3 linked regions of the Homo sapiens genome follow. The protein of the gene in region 1 interacts with the protein of each later gene in a biochemical or structural test. Each region holds a gene or a part of one and is shown in the gene's direction. Other genes may lie near its edges.

Evidence for each region.
Region 2: the proteins of MSH4 (region 1) and RAD51 form a complex in vitro, tested with the Homo sapiens proteins (one study listed by BioGRID).
Region 3: the proteins of MSH4 (region 1) and EIF3F form a complex in vitro, tested with the Homo sapiens proteins (one study listed by BioGRID).

What each region holds. Positions count from the first base shown.
Region 1 is NC_000001.11:75,817,341-75,821,000, forward strand, and holds part of MSH4 (mutS protein homolog 4), read left to right. Parts: intron 1-3,660. UniProt on the Homo sapiens protein: Involved in meiotic recombination. Required for reciprocal recombination and proper segregation of homologous chromosomes at meiosis.
Region 2 is NC_000015.10:40,698,092-40,701,751, forward strand, and holds part of RAD51 (DNA repair protein RAD51 homolog 1), read left to right. Parts: intron 1-665; coding exon of another isoform or gene 666-667; coding exon 668-754; intron 755-2,972; coding exon 2,973-3,110; intron 3,111-3,660.
Region 3 is NC_000011.10:7,999,845-8,002,512, forward strand, and holds the end of EIF3F (eukaryotic translation initiation factor 3 subunit F), read left to right. Parts: 3' UTR 1-2,008; downstream 2,009-2,668. UniProt on the Homo sapiens protein: Component of the eukaryotic translation initiation factor 3 (eIF-3) complex, which is required for several steps in the initiation of protein synthesis.

The sequences.
Region 1 (3,660 bases):
TTCACATCCATTAGGTTATAGGTTAAAATTACTCTGTCTTTGACTTTCTATGATATCCTATGTTATCATGGCATAGAAAGTCAATGACCAAGCCTGGTAGTTATTACAAAGTGTTTTATATTCAGTTTTACCTTGTCATGTTTCACACTTTATCATTGTCAAACATTGTTTGACTTCCTGCTATATATTAGGGATACAGATACTTAAATGATAGAATATCTGATCTCCAGGAGTTAGTATTATAGTTGAAAGGAACAATTGAAAAGTCTTTTCACAGACTTAAATGAAAGAATCCTCAGGTTAAAAGATGGATATTCTACGTACTGAACTATCTGAATAGCTCCAATGCTTCCATAGGCTTGCTGCCTGTTCAGTGCAGTATTACATCCATTGATTTCTATAACAAATGGGAGGTTTATGTGTGCCCCTTACCTCCTTTTAGAAATAAGTTCTCAAAAAAAAAAAATGTACATGTGATGGGAGACACCCCCCCTCCCCCTAGCCAGTTGATATGAGTAGTTCCCTACAAATTAGTTTAAATGGGTATGACAGAAATCTGGTAGAATGATGACTAAATCTTAAAAGTCATTCTTGTTTCCTCTCCTTTCACACCTCAGATTTGATCCATCAGAAAATCCTCTTGATCTAGCCTTCAGAGTATATACCAGTTCTGGATCACTTGTCACCATTTCCAAGGCTACTACCCTAACCCAAACCTCTATCATCTTTAGCATAGACTACTATAATAGCCTCCTAGCTTTTCTTTCTGCCCTCTTCTTACCTTCCTATAGTTTATTCTCAACATATTAATAGTAGTCATACTGTGATATCCTTTTAATCCAGAAATCAGATCTTGTAACTCTTCTGCTGAAAACCTTCCAGTGGCTCTCCTTACATTTACAATAGAATCCAGACTCTTTGGCCTATAAGGACTTCTATGTCCTGGCCTCTATCAACTTCTTCATTCATCTCTCTCTATTCTTACCCCCACTTGCAAAGCTCCACTAACCTTGATCTTCTTTTTTGTTCTGGAGCCAGACTTCCTGGGCTTAAATTGCTGCTATGCTACTTACTTGGAAATCTTGGACAAGTTACCTAATTTCCTTGTTCTTAAGTTACTTCTGTTGTAAAATGATGTGGCCAATAATAGTGCCTATCTCATAACATGGTTATTAGAATTAAACAAGTTAATACTTTTAAAATGCTTAGAACAATTGTGGGTACATACTAAGTATCATTTTATGTTAGCTGTCCTCATTATTGTTGTCATGATTCCCATCCCATCGTCATCTTTGCATTGCTGCCTTCTTTTTTAATCATTCAGTTCTCAACTCTACTATCAAATTCATAGGGAAGTCTTTCTTAATCAACCTAACTAAAGCAACCACCCTGGTCCTTCTCTGTATATTCCGTTTTTTTTGTTTGTTTGTTTTTTGTTTTGAGATGGAGTCTCACTCTGTTGACCAGGCTGGAGTGCAGTGGTGCAATCTTGGCTCACTGCAAGCTCTGCCTCCAGGGTTCACGCCATTCTCCTGCCTCAGCCTCCCAAGTAGCTGGGACTACAGGCACCCACCACCATGCCCAGCTAATTTTTTTTTTGTATTTTTAGTAGGGACGGGGTCTCACTGTGTTAGCCAGGACGGTCTCGATCTCCTGACCTCATGATCCACCCGCCTCGGCCTCCTAAAGTGCTGGGATTACGGGTGTAAGCCACCGTGCCCGGCCTGTTTTTGTTTTTTTTAGCTGTTTCTGTACCTAAAATTATTTTCTTGATATGATTATGTGTTTATTGTTTTTATTGTTTATTTCCCCTCGCTCTTTGTCTTGTCTTCAGTCACGGCCAGTAAACTGACAAAAGTTATTGTCAATGGCTAAGTGCGGTGGCTCATGCCTGTAATCCCAGCACCCTGGGCAGGCCAACGTGGGTGGATCACTTGAGGCCAGGAGTTTGAGACCAGCCTGGTCGCCATGGTGAAACCCTGTCTTTACCAAAAATACAAAATTTAGCCAGCATAGTGGCACACCTGTAATCCCAGCTACTCAGGAGGCTGAGGCATGAGAATCACTTGAACCCTGGAGGCAGAGGTAGCAGTGAGCCTAGATAGTGCTGCTGTACTCCAGCCTGCGCAACAGAGCAAGACTCTGTCTAAATAAATAAATAAATAAAAAGTTATTGGCAATCGCCATTAGGCTGTAAGGTCTGTGAAGACAGGAATCATGTCCGTCTTATATGCCCAGTGTTTAGCATAGAGTTTTGAATACCATAAGGGCTCAAAAAGTATTTGTTAAATATTAAAATGAATCAGATTTTTTACATGTATTATATGAAGTTGTCTAATAAATAGTCCAACTAAATGAATTTTTTTGTTTCTTTGTTTTTGTTTGTTTTAGACAGAGTCTCACTTTGTAGCCCAGGCTGGAGTGCAGTGGCGCAATCTCGGCTCACTGCAACCTCCGCCTCCCGGGTTCAAGTGATTCTTATGGCTCAGCCTCCTGAGAAGCTGGGATTACAGGTGCCTGCCACTATACCTGGCTAATTTTTGTATTTTTTTTTCAGTAGAGATGGGGTTTCACCATGTTGGCCAGGCTGGTCTTGAACTCCTAACCTCAAGTGATCCACCTGCCTCTGCCTCCCAAAGTGCTGGGAATACAGGCATGCGCCACCTTGACTGACCAGCATTCTTTAGAATAGCTCATTTCTTTATAAATCACCTAGGAATTATGAAATTGTCTTGTACTTGTCATCAGAACAAGATCATTATAGTAAATATTTATTTTAACAATATAAAAGCCCCTCCACCCTTAAGGATATATTATTAATATCTTGCTATTATGGATGGAATAAATAGACTAGAAAACTTTATATTAGTGTGAATATTGTAACTGATCTATAAAAGAAGTCATAAAGTGCAAGGAGATTCTATTCATCCTTGTTAAAGTGTAGTTCATTGACCAATAGCATATATGGGAGCTTGTTCAAAATATATCCTCATAAAATGAGTTAGGGAGGATTCCCTCTTTTTCTGTTGATTGGAATAGTTTCAGAAGGAATGGTACCAGCTCCTCCTTGTATCTCTGGTAGAATTTGGCTGTGAATCCATCTGGTCCTGGACATTTTTTGGTTGGTAAGCTATTAATTATTGCCTCAATTTCAGAGCCTGTTATTGGTCTATTCAGAGATTCAACTTCTTCCTGGTTTAGTCTTGGGAGGGTGTATGTCTCCAGGAATTTATCCATTTCTTCTAGATTTTCTAGTTTATTTGCATAGAGGTGTTTATAGTATTCTCTGATGGTAGTTTGTATTTCTGTGGGATCAGTGGTGATATCCCCTTTATCATTTTTTATTGCATCTATTTGATTCTTCTCTCTTTTCTTCTTTATTAGTCTTGCTAGTGGTCTATCAATTTTGTTTATCTTTTCAAAAAACCAGCTCCTGGATTCACAACAAAGATCAAAAGAGACAAAGAAGGCCATTACATAATGGTAAAGGGATCAATTCAACAAGAAGAGCTAACTATCCTAAATATATATGCACCCAATACAGGAGCACCCAGATTCATAAAGCAAGTACTTAGAGACCTACAAAGAGACTTAGACTCCCACACAATAATAATGGGAGACTTTAACACCCCACTGTCAACATTAGACAGATCAACGAGA
Region 2 (3,660 bases), on another chromosome or scaffold:
AACCTCTCTCCTTCCTGCCGCCCCCTGCAACAGCTGCATTCTCCTCAGTCTCTGGTTACCACTGTTCTATTTGTTCCTTGTATGAGATGAACTTTTTTTTTTTTGTTTTTTTTTTTGAGACACAGTCTCACTCTGTCATGAGGCTGGAGTACAGTGGCACGATCTCGGCTCACTGCGATCTCTGTCTTCCGGGTTGAAGCCATTTACCTGCCTCAGCCTCCCGAGTAGCTGGGACTACAGGCGTGTGCCACCACACCCTGCTAATATTTGTATTTTTAGTAGGGACGGGGTTTCGCATGTTGGCCGGGATGGTCTTGATCTCCTGACCTGGTGATCTGCCCGCCTCGGCCTCCCAAAGTGCTGGGATCACAGGCATGAGCCACCGCGCCCCGCCAAGATCAACTTTTTTAGATTCTACATATGAGTGAGATCATGCAGTATTTGTCTGCAAACACATTTATAATGTATAATGGGGTATATAAAAATAAGTAAAACTTGGCCCCTACACTGAAGGAATATAAAGCAGGAGAACAGAGAGGCACAATAAGAGAATGGCCTTGGCTTTTCCTAAAGTCTTTTTGATACGACTAGCTAGATAGAAGATGGGGAGAGAGATGCACCTTATTTCTCTAGTGTTTATACTGATAAGCATTTGTATTTTTCAGTAATGGCAATGCAGATGCAGCTTGAAGCAAATGCAGATACTTCAGTGGAAGAAGAAAGCTTTGGCCCACAACCCATTTCACGGTTAGAGGTATGTGGTTAGTTGCTAATTTTGGAATTATATACTAGATTCTTCTACCTAGTGGAAGGTATTACAACCTTTACATAAAATATAGGTTTACTACCAAGGTCAAGACCCAAATTAGACTTTTCAGAAGTGTTGTCAATAATCCTGTGGAAAGGCTGCAGATCATTGCTAAATATGTCTGGCAGGGCCTCTTCCTTTGTCAACAATTCTCTTCCTACTTTATCATTTTTATTTCTGAGAGTTGGACTGTCAGAAACTAAGGCCTAGGATCCCATGGTGGAATCTCTGTGCTGTTTTTGTTTGTTTGTTTGTTTGTTTTTGATGGAGTTTCGCTCTTGTTGCCCAGGCTGGAGTGCAATGGCGTGATCTCGGCTCACCGCAACCTCTGCGTCCCAGGTTCAAGCGATTCTCCTGCCTCAGCCTCCCAAGTAGCTGGAATTACAGGCATGAGCCACCACACCCAGCTAATTTTATATTTTTAGTAGAGACAGGGTTTCTCCATGTTGGTCAGGCTAGTCTCGAACTCCTGACCTCAGGTGATCCACCCTCTTTGGCCTCCCAAAGTGCTGGGATTACAGGCATGGGCCACTGCGCCCAGCCTGTGCTGTTTTTTTGTTTGTTTTTTAAGAAATGGGTCTTAACTGTGTTGACCATGTTGATCTTGAACTCCTGGCCTCAAGCAGTCCACCTGCCTTGGCGTCCCAAACTGCTAGGATTACAGGCATGAGCCACCATGCCTGGCCAAAGCATCCTGTGCTATTTGCACTAAGTATGAAAGTGCTGTTCTGGGAATTATAGCGGCCTGGACCAGTTATGCAAGGAAGACAGGGAAGCACCTTCTCTCCATTAACCTAGATTTGTGCTGTCAGCTGTCATTGGCAGAGAGAAGGGTGTGGTGGTGTTATGGTATAAGAGACAAGCTCCAATTCAGGATTCTGCACAAGAACATTAAGCACCAGAGCTGAGGCCTTACACTATTTCTGCCCATTGTATAGAGACTGCCCTGTGAGTGCAGCTGATTTGGGCTAAGTAGGAGGAAAGCAGAGAAAGACTTGATTCTTCTGTCTCTTTTTTTCATATTTCCCATCTCTGACTAATCTTCAAGACTCTAGAAGTTAGGAGTGCAAAAGGCTAATAAAAAAAAAAGACTCTAGAAGTTACTTAAATGGATTTGTGATAAACATTTGAAAGTTCAGAGTCATAACTTCTGGTGCCATGAGCATCCTTATACTCAAACATGCATATTGCTTAAATATTAATAGCAGACATGGCTTATGTTGGCAAACTAATCTCTCCCCTCTTCTAAATTCTCCCAACCCCTGAATGCACCCACATTCACCTACTAACTCATGTTTTCCCAGAAGTCATGGTTTTGGTGGCTAATGAAACCAAAGCTGACTTGAATATAGGAAGAAAGAGGTGTCTTTGGGTGGTTTGTTTTGAGAAGAGGTATAAAAGTCCCTGACAAAAAGTAGTTTTCCTCACTGTTAATGTCAGTTGTTAGAGCAGAGCTTTCTGGTCATTGTTCAACAAAAAGTATTGACAGGCCAAGATAGTGCTCTTTATATTCTGAGCAGCCTTATCTATTTACCCTACCATAGTGTAAAAATACAGTTTTTTATGTGTGCTTGATGTGGAAAGTGTTGAGCAACACTGTCTTAAAGTGGTCTTGTAGGGCCCAAGGTCTCAGAGATCATTTAGGGTCACAAAAAAAGGTTGGGAGTTACTTTTTAATTCCAATTGCTAATAGGAGTTCTTTTTAATGTACATGGCTTAGTGCTAGTTTAAAATTATTGATTTTGATAATGAAAAGGTTGTTAATTTGTTATTAAGTACCTCATATATAGGGCTCATTTTTCAGCTTTTGCATATAATAACAGTAGGCTCTCTGTATCTCCGGATTCTGTATCAGCAAATTCAACAAACTACGTATCAAAAATTCAATCAACTACATATCAAAAAAAAGTATACAGGAGGATGTACATAGGTTATATGCAGGTAATACGCCATTTTATATAAGGGACTTGAGCATTGTTGGATTTTGTTATCTGCTGGGGGTCCTGGAACCAACTTCCCATCTCCCCCCGCCCCCCCAAGGATTTCAAGGGACAGTTGTATTACAAGTCTTCAAGCACCTCTGTGAAGTATGTAGGACACATAACATCTGTGTTAGATTAGAGAACTAAAGCTTAAATTTATCCATGGTTTTCTTCATTTGCAGCAGTGTGGCATAAATGCCAACGATGTGAAGAAATTGGAAGAAGCTGGATTCCATACTGTGGAGGCTGTTGCCTATGCGCCAAAGAAGGAGCTAATAAATATTAAGGGAATTAGTGAAGCCAAAGCTGATAAAATTCTGGTAAGTACTGCTTACTTAACCTAGGGAGGCATTAGTGGGAATAGTACAAAAGGGAATGTAGTGAAAGACTTCTTCCTTCTATCTCTTATTCTTCGGTCATCTCATTATCCTTTCCAGGGGTGACTGTTACCTGTTTCTTTTCTTCTTTTCTTTTCTTTTCTTTTTTTTTTCTTTCTTTTTTTTTTTTTTTGGAGACGGGTTCTCGCTCTGTCACACAGGGTGGAGTGCAGTGGTGCCATCTCAGCTCACTGCAACCTTCACCTCCCAAGCTCAAGCGATCCTCTCACCTCAGCCTCCCAAGTAGCTGGGACTACACTACAGGCACATGCCACCATGCCGGGGTAGTCTCGAACTCCTGAGCTCAGGCGATTCACCTACCTCAGCCTCCCAAAGTGCTGGATTATAGGTGTGAGCTACTGTGCCTGGCCTATTTATTTTTCTAGCTTCATATAGTTCTTTAACATACATACTTCCCCATGGTTACATTTTGTTTTATGAACCTATTTCTTCAGTGTTTATATAGTTACACAGTTTTATTGCCTTTACCCTT
Region 3 (2,668 bases), on another chromosome or scaffold:
TACTTCCACGTTCACTGAAGCATTGTTCACAATCGCCAAGACATCAACCTAAGTGTCCATCAACAGAAGATAGATAGGGCTGAGCGCGGTGGCCCACGCCTGTAATCCCAGCACTTTGGGAGGCCAAGGCAGGTGGATCATTTGAGGTCAGAAGTTCTTGACCAGCCTGGCCAACATGATGAAACCCCGTCTCTACAAAAGATACAAAAATTAGCCAGGCATCTTGGAGGGCGCCTGTAATCCCACCTACTCGGGCTGAAGTGAGAATGGCTTGAACCCAGGAAGTGGAGATTTCAGTGAGCTGAGATTCCGCCACTGCAGTCCAGCCTGAGCGACAAGAGTGAGAAGAGTGAGACTTCATCTCAAAAAAAAAAAAGGTACATCTACACAATGGAATATTATTAACCTTAAAAGAAGGAAATAACTGATTTACAACAACATGGATGGACCTGGAGGACACTATGCTAGTGAAATAAGCCATGATCTCACTTGGATATGGAATCACAAAATTGAACTCACAAGCAGAGTGTAGAAAGGTGGTTTCATGGACTGGAGGGAGGGGATAAATGGGGAGATGTTGGTCAAGGGTACAAAGTTTCAGTTAAACAGGAGTAGTACGTTCCGGAGACCTGTTGTGCAGCAGGGTGACTAGTTAATGTATACTTGAAAATTGCTAGGAGTAGATCTCACCAGGAGAAATGAATATGTGAGGTGATGGATGTAACTAGCTTGATTGTGGTAATCAATTTCGCAATGTGTACATATATCAAAACATCACATTGTACAAAATACATACAGTTTTTGTCAATTTAAAGATATCAGAATTCTAGAATATGATAAAGTTGTGTTTTCAAGCAAGTAAAGATAGATTACTTAAGAGCGAATGAGTGGTAATTTGGAAACAATGTTGGATTCCTACTTCGTTACCTGCACCAAAATAAGTTGCTCATGGAATAAAAACTTGTCTGAAAAAAAAACCATAAATATGAGGGAAAAAACACAGCAATGTGTTTTTAATGATTTATGAGTGAGGAAGAACTTTCTAAGAACTGAGAATCCAGGAGTTATTTTAAAAGACTGACAAATTTAGCAACATTTTTAAAATCTGAGTGTCAAATTACACACATACACAAATAGTCAATACAAATATAAAACTGGGAAAATATTTGCAGTTCATATCAAAAAAAGGGCTAATATTCTTGTCCCAGAATTCCTACAGTTTTTTAAGGCCAGTAATTTGATACATTAGTGTGTAAAGGATATGACCAGACAGCTCACACACAGACACACAAATGTGAAAAGATGCTTGATCTCACTGATAAAGCATAAATTAAAACGATGTCATTTTTAAAAATCAGATTCGCAAATTTTAAAAGTTGCTAACACTGGAATGGCCAGAGTAAGAGGAAACGTGACACAGGCACAGATTGCTGGTAGACATATAAGTTGGTACAGCCCTCTCTATGTAATTTTGTGTTTGTCAAAATTACAAATATGCATGCCCTTAACCCAGGAATTCCACTCCTCATTATATATCCTACAAATAAACTGGTCTCGTTATGACACAATGTAATGAATACATAGATAAGTACTGAAATACTTGGTTATCATAGCGTAAAGATGGTAATCAACCCAAATGACTATTACCAGAATAGAAATTAAACAAAGTATGATATATCCATAAAACACAATACTATGCAGCTGTTAAGCAGAATGAGACAGTCCTCTATATATCAATATGGATAAAGAGTAAGTGAAAAAAGCCAGGAGAGAATGTTGTCTATAATATGCTGTTGTTGTGTACGGGAAAATAAATAATATAAATACCTAGAATATTTGTGAAGGTACAGCCAAGAAACTACTATCACTGATTGTCTTAAGGTACTAGATGGGGCACAGGACAGGACGAAAGATTTACTTCTTATTGTTTCTTCTGTATAACTTTTGAATTTTATGCTGTTAATGTAATTTTTCAAAAAAATATATAAAAATATAAAAACATGAAAAACATGAAACAATACCTTATATTTTTACATATACTATAAAAAGTAGGAAATATTGGGAGGCCGAGGTGGGCAGATCACCTGAGGTCAGGAGTTTGAGACCAGCCTGACCAACATGGAGAAACCCCATCTCTACTAAAAATACAAAAATTAGCCAGGTGTGGTGGCGCATGCCTGTACTCTCAGCTACTTGGGAGGCTGAGGCAGGAGAATCGTTTGAACCCAGGAGGTGGAGGTTGCGGTGAGCCAAGATCACGCCACTGCACTCCAGCCTGGGCAACAAGGGCAAAACTCCGTCTCAAAAAAAAAGTAGGAAACATGCGAAAAATGATAAAATCAAATTTAAGATACTACTTCTGGAGAGTAAAAGAGGAAGAGAGGGAACAGTATTGGCAAGGGATGCAGACGTGGTTTCAATTATATCTGTAATGGCTTTCCTTTAAAAAATAAGATATGGCCAGGAGCAGTGGTGCACACCTGTAGTCCCAGAGACTGGGGAGGCTGAGGACGGAGGATCCTTTGAGCCCAGGAGTTCAAGGCTGTGGTGCACAATGTTTACGCCTGTGAATAGCCACTGCACTCCAACCTAGGCCACTTAGCAAGACCCTGTCTATAAAAAATAAGATATGAAGTAAATATGACGTAATATTAAGTACATAAGTACT